2 separate regions of the Homo sapiens genome follow, and region 2 is linked to region 1. Evidence: fine-mapped expression QTL. A gene starts in region 1. The other region holds a variant in brackets. All regions are shown on one strand. Distances are between the middles of the regions.

Region 1 (3,016 bases):
TAGGAAGCAGCAAGAAATGGAGGAATATTTAAACGTATCACGAGAAAACAACACCAAAGTCAATATGATAGAGAAACCACAGGGGTTGTTCTAGGTGAAAAGACATAAACGATGGGAACAGATAAACCTTGAAGGGCTCTTAGTCCCCAAAATACCCAACAGCGCAATGTTGGAAAAATGTTGAGAATCCTAGATATTACACAAAGTAGACAGTGGATGACCTCCTTCTTATTTTTTTATTTTTTTATTTTTTTGAGACGGAGTCTTGCTCTGTCGCCCAGGCTGGAGTGCAATGGCACGATCTTGGCTCACCGCAACCTGTGCCACCCAGGTTCAAGCGATTCTCCTGCCTCAGCCTCCCGACTAGCTGGGATTACAGGCATGCGCCACCATGCAAGGCTAATTTTGTACTTTTAGTAGAGACGGGATTTCTCCATGTTAGTCAGGCTGGTCTTGAACTCCCGACCTCAGATGATCCACCCGCCTCGGCCTCCCAAAGTGCTAGGATTACAGGCGTGAGCCACTGTGCCCAGCGGACCTTATTATTTTTAATTATTATTATTATTTTTTGAGACGGAGTCTCGCTCTGTCGCCCAGGCTGGAGTGCAGTGGCGCCATCTCGGCTCACTGCAAGCTCCGCCTCCCGGGTTCACGCCATTCTCCTGCCTCAGCCTCCAGAGTAGCTGGGACTACAGGAGCCCGCCACCACGCCCGGCTAATTTTTTGTATTTTTAGTAGAGATGGGGTTTCACCGTGTTAGCCAGGATGGTGTCGGTCTCCTGACCTCGTGATCCACCCGCCTCGGCCTCCCAAAGTGCTGGGATTACAGGCGTGAGCCACCGCGCCCGGCCTAATTTTAATTTTCTTAGATGAAATACTAATATTGTGGTTTCAGTAGGATAATGTCCTTACCCTTAACAGACGCTTTACCAAGTATTTAAAGGTTAAGTATCATGTGTGCAGTTTAATTTCAACTTACTTACACTCAAATAATAATTCACCGTAAGGTTTATTTATTGGGGGAGAGAGAAAACATGGCCCAAAGCTAAAAAGGAGTAAAACGATTGCAGTGGATATTCCTTGTAGCAGATGTTCACATTTTTATTAGATTCAGATTTTCTAAAGCAAAACGTGAGAAAAAATACAGTTAGTCGAAACACACTGTTCACCGTGGATTCGATTACTCCAAGACCAGCGGGACAACGGCCGCATCCCTCCCGCCCCGAGGGCCGGGCCTGGAAGTCCCGGCGGCGAGGGACGCGCGCTCCCGCTGGCCCCCACGGGCTAACTTTCACAGGGAGCTGCACGCCCGGGGCGCTCAGGGGTCTACCTTACGCTTCGGTCCCAACACAATGTGCCAGAAACAAATAAAAAACGTCAAAGCCGAAGCCAGATTCTCACAGAAACACGCCCTGTTCAAAGTGAAGGAAGCAAAGGGCCCCTCTCTCACCAGCTCCGCGGAATGGAAGCGCTGCCCGGGTCTACCGCGAGCGGCGGCGACTTTCCCTTCTGGAAGCGGTGCCGGGGGCGCAAGGCGCGAGGCAGGCGGGCGGGCGCCCACTCCCGGACCAGCTTCCCCGCGGACAGCCCGAGGACACGCGCGGAACTCTCCGGCGCCAGCACGCACCGCCGCAAGAACCGGATCAGCTGTAAGACAGGCGGAGGCGGGGCCGGCGCCGGAAGAGGGGCCGGCGCGTCTTTGGCGTCACTTCCGCCTCCAGCCTCCGGGCCGAAGCTTTGGCCTATGGTGCGGGGAGGTAGTAGTTTCTTCCGCGAGGGTGCGGGAGGGCCCCGGGGCGCCCTTGGGAACCGGGCTGGAGGCAGAGACAGGCCCGGAGGACCAGGCGGACGTAAGGATCAGGCCTCTGGACGCAACTGCGGAGCCGGAACAGACCAGGAGGGCGCGGTTGGGCGGGTACAGCCAGGAAGTGCTCGTCGCGAGCGCGGCCCGCGGTTCGGTCACAGCGAGAAGCCCGCGGGTGCTGGGAGTGCTCGGTCTTCTCTCGATCTCTGCAGGGAGTCACTGGCCCCGTTCCTTTTTATCTGTCTGAACATCACGCCGAACTTTTAACAGTTGATTCCACTGCATTTTCAATGTGGTATTTTTTTTTTCTGTAAATGTTCATCTATTTTTCGCTTCAAATATGCGTTTCTGTTACTTTTCTAATGTACCGTAGGAGCCAAGACCACCTATACTACGTTGCAAAATAGCACTGATACCAGGGGTTCTCCCAAGGTTCATTCAGAAATGTCACATGATTCCAGTAACAATACGAAAAGGTTTTTTTTTTGGAACCAGGCATATTGATCCTGGAGTTCACATGGAGGAACAAATGTCTCATAACGCAGACGACGCGGACAAACAAAAGCGCAATGCCCGACAGATGCGAAAACAGCCTCTGTCATTAAAACTGTGTGCTAGTGACACATGAACAGGAAACAAATGGAATATCCAGACATCAACCCAGTAACATGGAAATTTGGTTCATAAACATAATTTCAGAGCGGTGGAACAAACATGCAGTTTATAATGAAAGGTGCTAAGACAAATGGTTAGCCGTCTGAGAAATGATGAAATTAATTCTGGATCTCACAGGGATAAACTCCAAACGGATCAGGAGTCTAAATGTGAAAAACAAAACAAAACCACATGTGAAGTGTTCACGTGATTTCGTGGCTGATTAAGAAACAAGATGTGCCCAGGAGGTGGCGGTGGCGCACAAGCTTTGACAGGTTGGAGGGTGAGGGAGTCTCACGCACCATGAGATTACCCACAGGCTTCGAATTGGGGGTCACTACTCAGAAAAGAGAAAAAAATGAGCGTGGGCGGGGGGCGCGCAGAGAACTCCCAGAGAAGAAGGAGATCAGACAGGGGGAGGGCTGACGTGACTAGATCACGTTTCTCAGCAGCCTGACAGGTGTCTGAGTCACAAAGCTCTGAAGGGCAGCAACGGCTTGCAGTCTTTAGAGCCCCAGGATTTATCTTATCTATGGCTAGCAGAGATTGGACACAATT
Region 2 (2,500 bases), 96 kb before region 1:
GTGGAGGAAAGAGGGAGCTCTCCTGGCTCAGGTCTCAGATATGCTTATTGAGGAGGTGGTTCTCTGAGCCGCTTGACACACCAGCAGGCTGGGCGTGGTGGAGCCCTGTGTCAGTGGACTTGCAGGGAAGGCAGTCTCGGCAGGGTAGCACGAGACGAGAAAGGCCGGAAGAGCCACAGAGAGCAGGTCGTGTTGGCGCAGGAGGCAGGGTGTCCTGATTTGCCGGCAGCCCCAGCGCTGATGTGTGCGCTCAGCTGCTTTGAGTTGTTCTCTTGTTTAAGGAGAAGAGAGACTTGATGAACTGGCCTGATAATGTCGATGCGAGCTCTGTTCACACGTGTGCTGTGAGGGATGTGTGGATTTCACTCTGGGCTTTTCCAGTAAGGTAGCTGTGTTATGGGTTCAGTTGTATGTGTGGTTTTTTGTTGTTGTTGTTTGTTTGTTTGTTTTGAGACAGGGTCTGACTCTGTCACCCAGGGTGGAGTGCAGTGGTAGAGTCTCAGCTCACTGCAACTTCTGCACCCTCCATAACCCCCCACCCTGCCCCACTGCCCCAGGCTCAAGCAGTCCTCCTACTTCAGCCTCCCTTGCAGCTGGGACCACAGGAGCAGACCGCTACACCCGGCTCATTTTTGTATCTTTTGTAGAGACGAGATCTTACCATGTTGCCAAGGCTGGTCTCAAGCTTCTGAGCTCAAGTGATCCTTCAGCTTCCGCATCACAGGCGTGAACTACCACACCCAGCCTGTCCTGTTTTGTTTGTTTGTTTGTTTTTCCAACTACTCACAGTAAAGCCAGGCATTTTCCTCATGGAGGCAGACAAATTTTAAACGCATTACAGGGAGTAGGGAGCTCTCAGGCCTGGTGGAGCTTTCTTAGCTTGAACAGTAGCTTGAAATAGAATGCCTGGGAAGACGCACTCCTGGTTGCAGCTGCTGTTAGAAGAGGCTGTATTCCTTAGGGAGGAAGTGAGCCCCAAGTGCCAGAACTCAGGTGCACACATCTGACCTGCCTTCTCCTGGTACAGGCTGAAATGGTTTCTGCTCAGTCTTCTACCATAAACTCCCTTTTCTCCAGATATAGCTTTATGTTATCAAAAACAATATATTTTTAGATTTTTCCAAAAGAATCGTGATCTCAGTGACATATACGTGGAAGATGGAAATGGAGCCCAC[A/G]ACTCTGCAGTGCATCCTGATGCCGCGCTGACCTGACGGCTTGTGCGTGTCCCTTTGGCTGCACCAGTGAGCACAGTGGCAGGCGTGTCAGAGAAAGGGCCCCTTCTGCAGACGGTCTCTCACCATTGCCGACCACGGAATCCCAGAACCGCTGAGCTGCCTCGGGAAGAACCAGCAGGTGTCTGCATCGTTGAGTGTGTTCTGATCCAAAGGTGTGCAGGGCTACAGAGAACAGTGTCGTCCCCACCCCATGGGTCCCCTGTCGTCCCCACCCCATGGCACAGTCACCCTGTCTCATTGTGCTCCATGCACGCCACTCAGAGCACAGGCAGCCTCACAGCCCCCTGAGCTTCACTTGGTGGTTCTCAAAGTGTGTCCTCCGACGAGCAGTCACCTGAGCTGCTGGAGCTTGTTAGGAACCCACATTCACAGCCCCACTGAGACCTGGCGAGCTGTGTGGAGGCCGAGAGGCTGGAGATGGCGTCCATGGGCATGGAGGCTGCAGTTGAGAACTGAGCATGTGAGCCCTCCAGCGAGTCTCAGCAGAAACCCCCCCAGTCTGTGCCAGTTACAGACTCACATCTGGTCTGAGGCCCCTCCCCGAAGATAGCTTTGTCAGTGCTGCAGGTGGGGAGCTGGGAGCTACGTCCCTCAAGATAAGTATTCCAGAGTGACCTTAGCTGAGAAGCTGGGAGGCGCATGGCTGGGCCTCGGCGTGTCCCACCTCAGGCTGTGGTTTCACGAGCCAGTCTGGCATGGGGTCTGTACTCAGAACAGAGCCCAGAACTCCCCCGCATGCTTCGGGAGGAGCAGGAGGCCGTGTCTGATGGCGAGAGCACAGGAGGGCGAAGCTGGGCTCACACACCCCTGAGACCGCTGTGGGCCCACATGGGCTCGTGGAGAGGGTGATTTCTGTCCATCTTTTCACTAAGGCAGAAAAGGACATAGAGCAGCATCACAGAGGAAGCCAGACTTGCTGGGCTTGCTGGACTTGGATCCGCTTCTCTTCCCAGTCTTAGGGCTCAGAGCACACGGCCTGTGGCCCGCCAGCTCCTACCATTTCTGCTTACCTGACAGTTGGGCTTCCCCCACCACCCAGTTCACATGCCTGCATGCTGCCTCCGCCCTGCCCCGCCCCTCCCCTGCGTGATTCCTCTCTGTAGAACACACTGTCCTCATCTCCTCCCACTGGAGGTTTAGCTCTGAAGCAGCGAATTTGCATTCTGTGCATTCTCAGCTCTGCCACATGCCGTCTGCACTGAGGCTTACCTGATGCTGTGAACGCCGAGCTCCTCAGGTTCTCACATCACGTTTAAGAAGTGGAA

What was found.
Region 2: its variant is fine-mapped to the expression of ZNF778-DT in nucleus accumbens (GTEx, PIP above 0.99).

The regions. Positions count from the first base shown.
Region 1 is chr16:89,216,345-89,219,360 of GRCh38, reverse strand. It overlaps ZNF778-DT (ZNF778 divergent transcript), which reads left to right and starts at 1,708. Exons shown (of 1, transcript NR_186410.1): 1 at 1,708-3,016. It overlaps ZNF778 (zinc finger protein 778), which reads right to left and starts at 1,658. Exons shown (of 7, transcript NM_001201407.2): 1 at 1,451-1,658. RefSeq lists enhancers at 242-771, 772-1,302, 1,827-1,876, 2,826-3,016.
Region 2 is chr16:89,312,204-89,314,703 of GRCh38, reverse strand. The region is part of intron 3 of ANKRD11 (ankyrin repeat domain containing 11); the gene reads left to right. Among named protein-coding and RNA genes, the nearest start is that of ZNF778, 96 kb to the right of the region's middle. RefSeq lists an enhancer at 1,055-1,849. The variant A/G (reference allele first, on the strand shown) is at 1,176.